2 separate regions of the Homo sapiens genome follow, and region 2 is linked to region 1. A link means that fine-mapping ties the variant in region 1 to the expression of a gene that starts in the linked region. Tissue or cell type: whole blood. Region 1 holds a variant in brackets; the other region holds the start of a gene. All regions are shown on one strand. Distances are from middle to middle.

Region 1 (8,120 bases):
TTCATATGTTTTTTGGTTCAACATAGGCTTTTGTTTCACTTGAGTAAATGCCAAAGAGATTTCTGGGTAGTTTGTTAAGTGTATATTTATCTTTGTAAGGAACTGCCAAGTGTTTTCCGGAGAAGTTGAACTATTTGGCCTTCCCACCAGCAATGTGTGAGAGTTCTTATTGCTTGACATCCTCACCAGTGCTGTACAGTCAGGGTTTGTTTGCTTGTTTGTTTGGGTCTTTTTTTGGAGGGACTGGTTCTTAATTTCTTTCTTTCTTTTTTTTTTTTTTTTTTTTTTTTGAGACAGGGTCTTGCTCTATCGCCCAGGCTGGAGGGCAATGGTGCAATCTCGGCTCACTGTAACCTCCGCCTCCCAGGTTTAAGCAATTCTCCTGCCTCAGCCTCCTGAGTAGCTGGGATTACAGGTATGTGCCACCATGCCTGGCCAATTTCTTTGCATTTTGTTTAGTAGAGATGGGGTTTCACCATGTTGGCCAGGCTGGTCTCAAACTCCTGGCCCCAAGTGATCCACTTGCTTTGGCCTCCCAAAGTGCAGAGATTATAGGCATGAGCGATCATGCGTGGCCTGGTTCTTTATTTCAAAAAGACACTCATCAGTCTTCAGTATCAAAACAGTTGCACTATTGATTTCTTTTTCTCCCAGTTGTCGTCAAAGAGGCATCAAAGGAGAGTACATTGTAAGCCAATAAGCTGCAGTTTGTACGCCTAACAGACCTCCTAGAAACTTTACCAAAAAGTGGGGATTAGGTAGGGAAAGAAACTTTAAAAGATCAGCAACCTGCCAGCCTACAGACTGTGGAGAGCTCTCACAGCCAGAGGGGGTAGCCAGGGTGCCAGAAACCCAAAGAAGCAAAGTTTCAAAATAATATGACATTTAAAAAGTTTTGTACACAAGCTATTCAAGATTTCTCACTGACTGATACAAAGCACAATGACATGGCACTTTTAGAGACAGCAGCTTCAAACCCAGAAAAGGGTGATGAGATGAGTTTCATGTGGCTAAATCAGTGGCAAAAACATAATCTTCTTTCTTTCAAGGAGGCAGGAGAGCAATCAAGTGGTCACCTCAATGTAAGGGGCACATGATCCACTCTGTAAGCGGCTGGGAATGGGGTGGAGATGGGACAGAAATTTGGTCTCAGAGGTCTCACCGTCTTAATTTGGTCACTTCTTTTTTTTTTTTTTTTTTGTCCCAGATGGAGTCTTGCTGTGTCGCCCAGGCTGAAGTGCAGTGGCGCGATCTTGGCTCACTGCAACCTCCGCCTCCCAGGTTCAAGTGATTCTCCTGCCTCAGCCTCCTGAATAGCTGGGACTGCAGACGCCCACCACCATGCCTGGCTAATTTTTGTATTTTTAGTAGAGACAGGGTTTCACCATGTTGGCCAGGCTGGTCTTGAACTCCTGACCTCAAGTGATCCGCCTGCCTCAGCCTCCCAAAGTGCTGGGATTACAGGCGTGAGCCACTGCGCCTGGCTTAATTTGGTCACTTCTAATGAAAAAACAAAAAAGTAAAAATAACTTTGTCCAAAGATATCTTAAAGCTGAAAACCTGAACAGCACATTTTTTGTTGCTGTTGTTTTTGGGCTAACTCCTGGAATCACCTTTCTGGTTTGGCTGGTACTTTGTGCAAAGCTATGATTTCCCAGAGTGGAGTCTTTCCCCGGGCTCTGTTTGGTTCTCAGTAAGGCAGGCTCATACCTTTTTCCCTTTTTTCTAGAGAAAGCAATATACAGTAAGCTAAACAGTCACCTTCCAAAAGGGAGAAAGGGATTAGATTGCTGCTTCAGAGCTGTGGAACTATTTGGAATGTTTTACAAATGGTTGCTATAAAACAACAAAAAAGGTAATTACTAAATGTATACAACACAACATGCTTTTAAAGACATTATGTGTTGCACTCACATTCGCTTAAATGTTGTTCCCAAAGGTGCTCAGCCTCTAGCGCAGCTGGAATCTCTGGGAAGAGGCAGAGACAGTTTGGCAAAAAAGACACGTGGGGGAGGTAGGGGTGGTGAAAGGAGAAAGCAGCCTTCCAGTTAAAGATCAACCCTCAGTTAAAGGGCAGCTTTGGGCAGGCTGGCCTAGTTGGAGTTGGGGTCAGAGGGAGGAGCAGTGGCAAGGTGGGACTGGGGTGCTCTGCATCTCATTCAGTTAAGCAGGTCTGGTCTGGCATCCTTTGTGTACAGAGGTGCTCCTCCTTGGTGCATTTCAGTTTATCTTCCAAGTCATCAATTGTCTCTTCCAGCTTGGCTACCGATCTCTCGGCAAACTCAGCCCGGGTCTCTGCCTCCTTGCGTTTATCAGTAAGAATCTCAGTTGCTTCCTCATATCTGTCTTCTTTTTGAGAGTCCTTTTCTTCGGCAGCACTCAGCCACTTCAGGTTCTGGTCCATCGATCTGATCTGCTCCTCCATCTCTCAGCCACAGGACTCTGCCAGCTCAGGTTGTTCCTCTCTGCGTCCCAAGTTTCCTTCAACAACCACCAACTTATGAGCCGAGCCCCATCTTCATGCTTCCTACCTATCTTCTGCAATGTGCTTAGCTTCTTTGAGTTGGATTTCCTGGAGTTTCATCTTTTTTTTTTTTTTTTTGAGACAGAGTCTCCCTCTGTCACCCACTGGAGTGCAGTGGTGCAATCTCAGCTCACTGCAACCTTTGCCCTCTGGGTTCAAGTGATTCTCCTGCCTCAGCCTCCCGGGTAGCTGGGATTACAGGTGCGCACCACCATACCCGACTAATTTTTGTATTTTTAGTAGTTTTACCGTGTTGGCCAGGCTGGTCTTGAACTCCTGACCTCAGGTGATCCACCCACTTCGGCCTCCCAAAGTGCTAGGATTACAGGCATGAGCCATCGCGCCCAGCCTTTTCTTCATCTTTTAAGGCTCGATTTTCAATAACCTTCCTACCTCTCCCACTCTCAATCAGCAGCTTTTACCACTTCTTCCAGCTTTTGCAGAGCAGTGGCCAGGCACGCCTGAGCACTGTCCAGCTCCTTTTCAACCAGCTGGATCCTATGGTTCAAGGAGGCCACCTTGGCCTCAGCCTGTTCCGGGCCCACCTTGCTCCCTCTACTCCCCGCTGGAGGCGCTTAGCTCTCTCCTCTGCATCATCTGCCTGCTGCTGCTGAACCTGGCTCTTGCGCTTTACTGCCTTGATGGTGGCGATCCCAGCCACGGTGCCCACCCAGCCCCTGCTTGTGCTCCAGGTCCTGCCTCTCCACTCAGCACTGCAGCCGTTTCTCCTACTGTCAGTTTCCCCCCCCCCCACATTCCAATAGGTAGCCTCAGTTTTAAAAAATCAGGTCAGTTGGGTCATGCCATTTCTTTGCTTCCACTTTCCAATGGCTCATATCATGCTTAGAATAAAACCCGAATCCTTATGTGGCCCATAGGGTTGGCCAGCTCCTGACAGTCCCCCTGGCCTCTTCTACTCTCCCACTCCAGCTATCCTGGTATCCGTGCTGTTGCTCAGACATGCCCAGATGCCCCACCTTGAAGCCAGTGACCTTGCGGCTTCCTTATCTTGAATGCTTATTCCTCAGGTTTTCCCATGGGCCACCTCCAGAAAAGGTGGCATCTCAAAGCTATCTCTGCGGAAGGGTCTTTGCTCCCCATCCTGTGGCCTGGTTTTATTTTCTTCACATCTTTCATCAACATGTGAAATTATCTTAGCTATTTATTATTTTTAAAATGT[A/T]TTGGATCTCATTAAAATGCGTGCTTTAATTGAAGTATAATATTAAGTGTATAGCTCAATGACTTTTTTTTTTTTTGAGAAAGAGAGTTTTGATTCTGTTGCCCAGGCTGAGATGCAATAGTGCAATCTCGGCTCACTGCAACCTCTGCCTCCCAGGATCAAGTGATCATCCTGCCTCAGCCTCCGAAGTAGCTGGAATTACAAGCATGTGCCACCACGCCCGGCTAATTTTTTGTATTTAGTAGAGATGGGGTTTCACCATGTTGTCAGTCTGGTTTCGAACTCCTGACATCAGGTGATCCACCTGCCTTGGCCTCCCAAAGTGCTAGGATTACAGGCGTGAGCCACCGCACCTGGCCTCTATGACTTTTTACACATGTGTGCTTGTAACCGTTCCCCATATCTGGACATAGAAGGTTCCCAGACACCCCAGAAAGCTCCCTCATGTCTCTTCTTCTCAAAGGTAGCCACTATTCTAATTTCTATTTGGTTTCTGTCATAGATGAGTTTTGCCTGCCTTTGAGCTTCATGTAAGTGGAATCGTGTAATTTGGACACTTTTTGCCTAAATTCTTTCATTCATCATTGTCTGTGAGATACAGCCACATTTTTGCATGTGGATAAATGCAACAGCAGTTTGTTCTTTTTATATTGCTGTTGCATGGAGTACTGCATAGCAATACCCCATTGCACAGCAGTGTTCCATTGTGTCAGTATAACACAATTCATTTATTCATTCTTCTGCTGGCCGACCATGGGTTGCTTCTGACTGGTTGCTGTTGAATAACACCGCTGTGAACATTTTTACACGTCTTTCCATGGAGAGATGCACTCATTTATTTTGGATATATGCCTGAGAGTAGAATTGCTAGATCATCGAGTAGGCATATGTTTATCAGCTATTTATTCTTTTACTTGTTTATATTTTTTTCTCTTCCTGGACTGTAAGTTCCATGAAGGTAGGAAACAAACTTGTCTTGTTCACTATTGTATTCCCAGTGTGTAGCACAGTGCCCAGCACATAGTAGCTGCTTAATAAATATTTGTTAAGTAAATGAACAAACTTAAGCTACTATCAGCTCCAAGTAAGTTATGACAAAGAACCCAGGACTAGCTACAAATCCTCCTGACATTCGCCCTTCGCAAGCTGATATTTGAGAGCCCAGCTGACTCAGAAGGAGGCAGAGCTGCAGGTGCTGGGTTATTCAGCATCCTGTTATTCTTTGAAGTGGCTCCCCCTCCCTCTCTTGGCCTGCATTGTCACAGCTTGAAATATTCTTTTGATTATGAGAACATTTCCCATTAAGTGTGCATCTCCAGCTTCCCCCCACCCCCCAGTATTTATGAGCTCATAACTCCAGAATCTGTCACAATCAGTGCTGCAAAAGTGTATCTGAATGTAATGAAATAATTTGATGAGAAACGTGGCGGGGAGACAGTTGGAATTTTCTCCTGCCTTACAAACCATCCCCAGGGGACAGGTGTATATAAATCAACACCTCCCTTAATTAAGTAAAACATTTTAGGGAAAAAAACAAATTAATTACCACTTCATGGCACCACCCCAGCCGATTACCCAAATGGTTCACATTCCATAAACCTCACTTGAATTCAGAACTAATTATCACTCTTTTGGTTGGTTTATGCTTCCCAATCTACAAAGATCTGTATTAAAAGTGGGTAGTGTGGTATGGCTTTTTCACTTTACTTTCAGGATGATGTAAGCTGTCAAAAGAATCAAGAATTAAGTCTTAAAAAAAAAAAAGAGCTGAAAATGCAGGGAACGTAGAATGTGGAACATTCAGGGTAGGAAATAAACATCACCTTGGGGTGTTGCTGGGATGGTGGGGAGAAGCCTATAGAGTGCAGGATGTGTGGGGTCTTGTCCTGGCTGAGTCCCTGACTTGCTGTGAAATGTTGGGCATGAACTGGACGTCTCTGGTCTCTTATCTGGGGACCATTGTCCATTACCTGCCTGGCCCCCAGGGGGAGCCCTTGCCTCCTGCCATGTGGTCCCAACAGGGAGTGAGAATCCTGACATCTCTGAGCCTCCATTGTCCAGCCTGGCCTGATGTCTTTCCTAATTATCCTTCCTGCTGGCTCTGGCCTCCCCCTTGCCCTGTGGGCCCGATCAGTTCTCATCTTTGATCCTGCAGGGCCCCGTGGCCAGGGTAGCTGCTAATAGCTTCTCCTATTCCCAGTCCGTTCAGCTGCCTTCTGAGTGGTTCACTCCCCCAGTGGAGCAGGCTGCGCAGGCCTGGCCTTGGCTCTTTTGGACTATGTGTGGGAGTGGGAGTCTCAATGGCATCAAGCACAGTTGGCCTTGGTAGCCCCCTCCAGCTGTAAGCCTTGTAAGTCCAGAGTCCAGTGCTGGCTAAGCCAAGGCCTAACCTTCCCTTGTTTCTGCCACTTGCCCCACTTGAGTGGGTGTGTACATTGTAAGCGCTCAGTCAGTTCTCAGTCACTATCTGAATGTTAACGAAAGACATGGATAACCAGAAAGAAACAATCCAACTCTTTAAAACATTTTTAAGGCATGAATTGCACATAGTACAGTGCATAAGTTATACATGTACAACTCAGTGAATCTTTACTTTGTGTACACCTGTGTAATTCCAACCCAGGTCAAGACACAGGTCATTCCACCTCCCTAAAAGTTTCCCTTCCAGTCAACGCTCCTCAAAAATAACCATTATCCTGACTTCTATCACCATAGATTGGTTTTGTCTGTTCTTGCATTTCATATAAATGGAATCATCTGGTATCTAGCTTTCTGTGTCTGGCTTGTTTTGCCCATTCACTGAGTCTATGAGATTCATTCTTATTGCGGATAGCAGTAATTATTGAACTCTTTTTTAGACTGAAGTTTTAAAAAGTGATTACTTGAGCGATTACTGATTGTTGGTATCTAGCTTGACAGTATGTTGTCCTTTTAAAAAATAACCACATACCAAGATATTTGTGGGCCTAATACTGTCATTACCATATGTACAAAAAGAATAATTTAGCTCCTGTGAGCACTCGAGTACATTCAAATTCCAAATGGAGCAGGGATGAATTTGATTAGGAAGGTGTCTGACTACAGCCCTTCCCTCTTGAGAACCTTCCAGGGCGTTTTCTTATTGCATTAACTCCCATTTGCTGAGTGCTGTGGTTTGAATATTTGTCCCCTGCAAAACTCATGTTGAAATTTAATCACCAATGTGGCAATATTGAGAGGTAGGGCCTTTAAGAGGTGATTGGGTCATGAGGGCTCTGCCCTTATGAATGGATTAATCTATTCATGGATTCATAGGTTAGTGGATTACTGGATTATCATGGGAGTAAAACTGGTGGCTTTATAAGAAGAGGAAGAGAGGGATGAGCGTGGTGGCTTGCATCTGTAATCCCAGCACTTTGAGAGGCCGAGGATAGAGGATTGCTTGAGCCCAGGAGTTTGAGACCAGCCTGGGCAGCATAGTGAGACTTCATCTCTAATTTTTTTAAAAAAGAAGAAGAAGAAGAGGAAGAAAGACTTAAGCTAGCACGCTCAGCCCCCTCACCATGTGTGATGCCCTACACTGCCTTGGGACACTGAAGAGAGTCTCCACCAGCCAGAAGCTTCTCAGTAGATGCAAGCCCTTAACCTTGGGCTACTCAGCTTCCACACTTGTAAGAAGTCAATCCCTTTTCTTTGCAAATTACTCTGTTTCAAGTACTCTGTGATAAGCAAGAGAAAACGAACTAAGACATTGGGTTGCTAGAGAGGTTTAGTATCTTTTCTTAGGGTCATTTATTACCTGTGTAACAGGTAGGTCCTGCTGGGACCCTTTCTGAGGACTCCAGGGAGGGCATGAGGAAGTTGGAGCCTGCTCCCTCCAGGTCATGTGTGAGAGGGTGGGAATAATCTGGGTACACCCTGCAGGTTGTCTCCAAAAGGGTCAGTCACCCCCAAACCCAGGGAACATCAGTGCTGGGGCAGGTGGGGGAAGAATCAGGGTCCACTGTCTCTTGGGCTAGACCCAGGCAATGTCTGTCCCCATGGAACCCTCAGCCCTAATCCCTGCCTTCAGCCCTGAGAGCTTGTTAGCAAGAGGCTCTGATCCAGCAGGTCTGGGGTGGATCCAGGAATCTGATATTTTAAAGCTCCCCAAGTGATTCCAGGGAGTGGTCTGGAGCCAGACTGCTTGCATTTGAATTCCAGCTCTGCCTGTTATCACTGTGACCTCAGCCAAGTAACTTTGCTTCTCTTGCCTTCATTTCCTCATTCGTACAATGGGGATTATAATCGTGCTGGAAGAATAAAATGAATCAATGCATTTATGCTTGAAAAGCACTTAGAAGAGTTCCTGGCACAGAGTAAGCACTCAAAAAGAGTTGGCCACCACCGCCATCATCATCATCATCACCATCCACGGCAGCACCAATGCTTTACCAA
Region 2 (8,120 bases), 760 kb after region 1:
GTGGATCACGAGGTCAGGAGATCGAGACCATCCTGGCTAACATGGTGAAACCCCGTCTCTACTAAAAATACAAAAAATTAACCGGGTGTGGTGGCGGGTGCCTGTAGTCCCAGCTACTCGGGAGGCTGAGGCAGGAGAATGGCGTAAACCCGGGAGGCGGAGCTTGCAGTGAGCTGAGATTGCACCACTGCACTCCAGCCTGGGTGACAGAGTGAGACTCCGTCTCAAAAAAAAAAAAAAAAAAAATGTAAAATGTCATGTGAAACCAGAAGGAGTCCTACTTTACTATTTTTAAATTCCTGCCTTTTAGGGTTTATATAATCAGCTGCTTTAAAAAATATCCCATTTAAGGTACCCTTTGAAGAAAAGTAATGCTTACAGATGTTGTACCTTCCCTCCCAAATGATACAAATAATCATGCTGATTTAGTCAGATCCAGATGATGGGTGGTTAACAAATCTCTCTCTCTTTCTAGTCCTGACACTGGCCTCAAGCTCCAGACCTAAACCTGTCAGTATTGTACTATCACATTATACACACATGAAACACTACTATGTCCTTTCTGATTCATCTATTTCAGCCCATGTCAGCACTATTTTTCCTAATATCTCAACTCAAAACCTTAGAATTCACCTTTTTGGCTTTCATTATTGTGTTGAGCTTCAACATGGATTATCTCGTTGAACAGGATACATAATTTCCTATTTTACAGATGGAAACACTGACGTTAGAATTCATACAGCTTGGCCGGGCGTGGTGGCTCACGCCTGTAATCCCAGCACTTTGGGAGGCCAAGGCGGGCGGATCACGAGGTCAGGAGATCAAGACCAGCCTGGCTAATATGGTGAAACCTCGTGTCTACTAAAAATACAAAAATTAGCCAGGCATGGTGGCATGTGCCTGTAGTCCCAGCTACTTGGGAGGCTGAGGCAGAAGAATCGCTTGAACCTGGGAGGCAGAGGTTGCAGTGAGCCAAGATCATGCCACTACACTCCAGCCTGGGCAACAGACTGAGACTCCATCTCAAAAACAACAACAACAAAAAAAGCTTGGCGCAGTGGCTCATGCCTGTAATCCCAGCACTTTCACAGGTCAAGGCGGGCGGCTCACCTGAGGTCAGGAGTTTAAGACCAGACTAGCCAACATGGTGAAACTTATCTCTACTAAAAATACAAAAATTAGCTGGGCATGGTGGCGGGCACCTGTAATCCCAGCTACCCAAGAGGCTGAGACGAGATAACAGCCTGAACCTGGGAGGCGGAGGTTGCAGTGAGCCGAGATCGCGCCATTGCACTCCAGCCTGGGCAACAAGAGCAAAATTCTGTCTCAAAAAAAAAAAGAATTCATACAGCTTATAAGTTGCAGAACTAGAGAAAGAGTCAAACCTTTTCTGAGATTCCAGACCCTGCACTCTTAATTACCAAACAACACTGTCTCATCTTTGGATCCTTCACCTGTCCATCCTGTAAGTAACCTCCTGTAAGTAACCAGATCCTATGCTTTCTTCTCTTCCACATTTATTCAACAGTAACTACACACCTACTGTATGCCAGACATAAAAGAATTCAGGAATGAATAAAACAGAATCCTTCAAGGAGCTCATAATATAGTGGAAAAGGCCAGGTGTGGTAGCTTATGCCTGTAATCCCAGCACTTTGAGAGACCCAGATGGGCGGATCACTTGAGCCCAGGAGTTTGAGACCAGCCTAAGCAACATGGTGAAACCCCATCTCTACAAAAAATACAAAAAAATAATAATAATAACAAGTAGGGTTGGTGGTACATGCCTGTAGTCCCAGCTACCAACTACTTGGGAGGCTGAGGAGGGAGGATGTCCTGAGCCCGAGAGGTCAAGGCTGCAGTGACCCATTATCACTGCACTCCAGCCTGAGTGTCAGAGTGAGACCCTGTCTCTTGAAGAAAAAAAAAAAAAAAAAGAGGCCAGGCATGGCGGCTCACACCTGTAATCCCAGCACTTTGGGAGGCCGAGGAAGGCAGATCACCTGAGGTCGGGAGTTCAAGACCAGCCTGACCAACATGGAGAACCCCTGTCTCTACTAAAAATACAAAATTAGCCAGGCATGGTGGTGCATGCCTGTAATCCCAGCTGCCCAGGAGGCTGAGGCAGAAGAATTGCTTGAACCCAGGGGGCGGAGGTTATGGTGAGCCGAGATCGCACCATTGCACTCCAGCTAGGGCAATGAGAGTGAAACTCCATCTCAAAAAAAAAAAAAAAAAAAAAGAGAGAGAGAGAAAATGTGGAAAAACCGGATATAAACAGGTAATTATGAGATAAGAAATGCTCTTAGTAGGGTGTAGAGGAAGAAGGGCCTAATACTGCCTCAGGTTTTCAGTTATCCAGAAGAAAACAGGAACCAAATGGCTTCGATTCATTTCAACAGAAAAATAATACGCAGAGGTAACAAATCCAAGCTCTTACAATCTCAGACATGAATTATTACTATCTTTATTACCATTCCCCAACTAGGAAACCTGGGCAAATTAACTTCTCTAAATTTCAGTTCCCTCATCTGTAAAAGGGGGAAAATAACACCATCTATCACATAGAAATAAATGTGAGGACTAAATGAGAAAAGGTATATGTTACCATTTTTAGAAACCTTAACTCTATTCATAAAACACCCATTCATTATGCCGTTCCCCATACCAACATTCTATGGGATAACATCAAAACGTTAGCCTTGGCCAGGTGCCATGGCTCACGCCTGAAATCCCAGCACTTTGGGAGGCCAAGTGAGACTGCTTGAGTCCAGGAGTTCCAGACCAGCCTGGGCAACATAGAAAGACCCTGTCTCTAAACAAAAAACAAAAACAAAAACAAAAAAACTTTAGCATTTAAAGGACACAAAGGGGACTTCTGGGGTGCTGATACTGTTTCTTGAACTAGGTGCTGGCTACATGAGTGAATACAGTTTTTAAAAATTCATTGAACTCTACACTTACTTAATATGCATTGTATGTATACTGTACTTCAGTAAAAAAAAAAAAAAAAAAGTTGTTTGTTTTTTTTTAATCATCAAACTCTGGCCTAAACCTAGCTTCCACCCCATTACTCCCCTGCTTTGGACATTTCACATCCTTGAACGTTTCTTCATCCTATTTACTTTCTGCTACCTGGAACTCTCCTTTTCTCTAATCTCCCTTTCAAAACCCTACATCCTTCAAGAGTCAGCTCAAATCCCACATTCTGGAAAACTGGAAAGGTAGGGGATAGTTTATTCAGGGTCAGAATACTAAGGAAGGAACTGGGTGGACACATAAAGTATACTTTTCATGAATTATTATAACGATTTGTCTCCCTCACTAGCCTGTGCAGCTACTTCAGGCCAACTTCGCTTTCTCGCTGTAGGCGTTAGTATAAAACAATGTTCGGTGAAGAACTTAGTAAGGAACAGTAACAAAAATTGCCCTGCAAGTCCCAGACTGAGAAGAGACGTCTAAAGCACACGCACACTCTCCTCGCTTAAGCAAAATTGGTCCCCTCATCCCGGACCCCCTCACACATAACCTTTTATCCCAGGGAGCACCCCTGGCGATCCCGCCCCAAATCCCAAACTCCTCTGCAAGCCGCGCTCCACAAGCACCTCCTCCTCTTATTCCAACCCTTCCCACAGACCACACTCCTCGGCTCAGGACACTGAATGGGACACGCCCCCTCAGATCCCCACCACTAGGTGGTCCGGCCCCCAGGGCCCAAACCTCACGACACTGTCCCCACGCCCCGGTCCCCACGCCCCCTCCCCTCACCAGCCCCGCCCTCAGGCCCCGCCCTCTCCAAGAACCCCACGAGACAGTCAGTTAGTTCTCTAGGAACCGCGCGCTGGCGGTCACTGCCCCCGCCTCCCATTCACAGAGGCCGCGGGAGGGCAGGTGGGGCCTGACAGTCTGCTCGAGCCAGTGGCCTCACCTCTCTTCCAAGAGCTCAGTGGGGACACCACCTCCACCCGCTCGGAAATGAACTCGGCCAGACTGGAGCGGAACAAGGCCGCCCGCACTGTCACAGCCACCACCAGCACCAGGACCAAGGGAGCCGCCATGATAACTGGGGCGGGCGCGCGGGCGGGGAGGGAAGGCGAGGCGGAGGAGCCTCGCGCGCTGTGCGCCACGCTCTGTAGTTCCGCGGGTGGGCGCGCGCTGCCGCTGGCGCCGGAGAGGCCAGACGTGGGGACTACGGCTCCCAGAAAGCCTTGCGGCGAGGCGGGCCGGAGCGACGGAAAGCGGGCGCCTCAAGCTGCGTATGCAGAAGGTGGGGCGAAACCTTCTACGATCGCAGGTGTTTTGTGAAGCCGCGCCGCTATAGCGGGGCTGAAACGCTGCTGAAAGTAGAAGCGGAAGTAGTCGCCTTCCTGGGATTGTGAGAGACTTTTAAACAGATGTTAAATTCACTCTTGCGTGTATGTTTTCAATGCCAAAATGTTTATTTTTATTTTTATTTTTATTTTTTTTGAGACGGAGTCTCGCTCTGTCGTCCGGCTGGAGTGCAGTGGCGCGATCTTGGCTCACTGCAACTTCCGCCTCCTGGGTAGCTGGGATGACAGGCGCCCACCACCACGCGCGGCTATTTTTTTTTTTTTTTTTTTTTTGTATTTTTAGTAGAGATGGGGTTTCACCATGTTGGCCAGGTTGGTCTCGAACTCCTGACCTCAGGTGATCCGCCCGCCTCGGCTTCCCAAAATGCTGGGATTACAGGCGTGAGCCACCGCACCCTGCCCAAAATGTTTATGTTTTTTGTTTTTGAGACAGGGTCTCAGTGCCGTCGCCCAGGCTGGAGTGCAGTGGCGCAATCTCAGCTCACTGCAGCCTGGACCTCCCGGGCTCCAGAGTAGCTGGGACCACAGGTGCGCGCCACCACACCCGGCTAAGTTTTTGTACTTTTAGTAGAGACGGGGTTTCGCCATGTTGCCCAGGCTGGTACCTTTTATGTTTTTAAAGAGTGTTAAATGTGTATTTTTTAAAAAATTTATTCTGGCAGTTGTTTGTTAAACGCCAACTATTTTCCAGGCACTATGTTAGGTTCTACAGATGCGTTTTGGAGTAGTAGACTGATTTATTAGCTAGTTCAACAAGTCGCTTAACCCTTGTGTGCTGAAAAATGTGCTGATTATAGGCTAACTAGGGACAGTTGAGGAAGGCTTAGAAATTTTTTTTTTGTTTTGGAAACGGAGTTTCGCTCTTATTGCCCGGGTTGGAGTGCAATGGCGCGATCTCAGCTCACTGCAACCTCCGACTCCCAGGTTCAAGCGATTCTCCTGCCTCAGCCTCCCGAGTAGCTGGGATTACATGCATGCGCCATCACGCCCGGCTAATTTTTTGTAATTTTAGTAGAGACAGGGTTTCTCTATGTTGGTCAGGCTGGTCTCGAACTCCAGACTTCAGGCGATCCACCTGCCTGCCTCGGCCTCCCAAAGTGCTGGGATTACAGGCTTGTGTCATCGTGCCTGGCCGGAAGGCTTAGAAATTTTGCCAGTCGCTTTTAAACACAGGCATTTTTGAAAATTAAGACATATAAACCTACAGTTAAATAACTTATATTGAAAACAACGGAATACATATTCAACACGTCACTTTCTAATTATTTTACTACACTTTTTTTTATATGTGCTTTTGAGATTATTTACCACCGCTGTATCAGTACAGCAAATACTATCTCTTTCTCTTCCCAAATGGTGGTGTTCAGTTTCCTCAGGTTGATAGATTGAAAATCCCTCCCAATGCGAGTGTTTACACCACAGGAATCAGCAAACACTACAAATCAGGGGTTTGGGGTTTGGAGAGCCCATTGATAAGCATTAAGCAGCACACTTCATTAATTAATGTATAGTAAGTGCTTAAATATTAGCAATAATAATATTAAATGTGCAAGGAAATTTCATATTTGTGAAGAAAAGGAAACAGGCTGGACGCAGTGGCTCACGCCTGTAATCCCAGCACTTTGGAAGGCCGAAGCAGCCGGATCACTTGAGGTCAGGAGTTTGAAACCAGCCTGCCCAACATGGTGAAACCTCGTCTCTATTAAAATTACAAAAATTAGCCAGGCATGGTGGCCTGTGCCTGCAGTCCCAGCTACTCAGGAGGCTGAGGCAAGAGAATCACTTGAACCTGGGAGGCGGAGGCTACAGCGAGCCAAGATAGCGCCATTGCACTCCAGCCTGGGCGACAGAGCCAGACTCTGTCTCAAAAAAAGAAAGAGAGAGAAGAAAGAAAACGAAACAGTGTATGACTGAGAATAACTGCTGGTGTAATAATAAGGGTGGTAACACTAGACAAGGTGATCAGGGAAGACTCTAGAAAGAGGTGATATTTGAGCTGAGACCTAAAGGATGAGAAATTAATCAGAGCCTCCAAGCAGAAGGAACGGACTGAGTGGGGAAAGAGCAAGGTATGTTTGAGGATCAGAAAGAAAACAAGTATGGCTCAAGTGGAGAGAATAGAAGAAGCTGTGGATGGAGAGACGGGGGGCAATCAGGTAGGGACCTATTGGCCATGCTTGAGAATTTGGGCTTTATTCAAAGTGCAATCCATATGCCATTGGAGAATTTTAAACCAGAAATGATGTGAACAGGTGTACATTTTTCAAACATCTCTATATTCCCACAAGCCCTCTATTGGGTGTTGGGGAATATTGCAGTGACAAAATGGCACCATCTGCCTTTGCCCTTATGTAACTTGGAAAGCAGTTGAAGAGATAAAATAGTTAAAGAATAACATAAGTAAAATCACAAACCATAACTCCAGCCTGGGCGACAGAGCAAGACTCCGTCTCAAAAAAAAAAAAAAAAAATCACAAACCTTAATGAGAGAAAGAAAAGGGGGAGTGGGCCAGGCGCAGTGGCTCACGCCTGTAATCTCAGCACTTTGAGAGGCCATGGCGGGAGGATTGCTTGAGCCCAGGAGTTTGAGACCAGCCTGGGCAACATGGTGAAACCTGTCTCTACAGAAAACATAAGAATTACCCAGGCATGGTGGCGCATGCCTGTAGTCTCAGCTACTGGGAAGGCTGAGGTGGGAGAATCACTTGAGCCTGGGAGGTTGAAGCTGCAGCGAGCCAAGATCACGCCGCTGCTCTCAGGCCTGTACGACAAAGCAAGACCTTGCCTCAAAAAAAAAAAAAAAGAAAAAAGAAAAAAAATGGCCGGGCGCAGTGGCTCACACCTGTAATCTCAGCACTTTGGGAGGCCGAGGCAGGCAGATCACTTGAGGTCAGGAGTTCGAGACCAGCCTGGCCAACATGGTGAAACCCCGTCTCTACTAAAAATACAAAAAATTTAGCTGGGCAAGGTGGCGGGCACCTGTAATCCCAGCTACTTGGGAGGCTGAGACAGGAGAGTCACTTCGACCCGAGGATCGGCGGTTGCAGTGAGCCGAGATTGCACCACTGCACTCCAGCCTGGGCGACAGAGCAAGACTGTCTCAAAAAAAAAGAAAAAAGAAAAAGAAAAAAATGGGAGTGGGATTCTAAAAGAATGCAAAAATAAACCCTGGGGCTGATAGCTTTCTGGACCAGTGAAAGGGGTAGGGTCTCCTTTGGGGGAGGGGATCATGAAGAAATTAGAGGGGCACTCATCCTTTGAGCCCCTGCTGTGTGCCAAGTAGTGTACCATATGCTTAACACACATGAGCTTATTTAGTCTGCACAGCCTTCCTTCTTAAAGATGTGGGTTTTTGTATCCCCTTTTACATAAAAGGAGATATATGTGTTGCATCATCTTACAGTGAAGTGTATTACATCATAAAAAGTGGAAGTAATTGTAACACTAACCTCATAGTGAATATTGAGCAAGGTTATACAATGTAAAATGCTTAGCACATACCCAGTGCTCAGTAAAGGTTACTTAGCTGTTATATTATTTACATCATTCTAACAGATGACTTAAAAATTTATCTTAGGGTGAGGATTGTCTTTGGGAAAAACAGTGATTAGCCATTGTAGACAGATGTGACCCAAACCAGTGGTTCTCAAAATGAGTGTGCATGAAGTATGAATACAACTAGTGGTTCTCAATAAAAAAACACAAGACCCAAATACAGAAGCTAGAATTATAAAACTCATAAAAGAAAACATAGGAGTAAACTTTTATGACCTTTAATTAGGCAATGGT

Evidence for each region. PIP is the estimated chance that this variant, and not a neighbour inherited with it, causes the effect.
Region 2: it holds the start of PIGU, and the variant in region 1 is fine-mapped to the expression of PIGU in whole blood (INTERVAL, PIP 0.96).

The regions. Positions count from the first base shown.
Region 1 is chr20:33,910,172-33,918,291 of GRCh38, forward strand. It overlaps the pseudogene TPM3P2. Among named protein-coding and RNA genes, the nearest start is that of RALY, 80 kb to the right of the region's middle. The variant A/T (reference allele first, on the strand shown) is at 3,705.
Region 2 is chr20:34,673,028-34,681,147 of GRCh38, forward strand. It overlaps PIGU (phosphatidylinositol glycan anchor biosynthesis class U), which reads right to left and starts at 4,065. Exons shown (of 12, transcript NM_080476.5): 1 at 3,929-4,065. The coding sequence starts at 4,058. RefSeq lists enhancers at 3,533-4,419, 4,420-5,305 and silencers at 3,685-3,784, 4,025-4,134.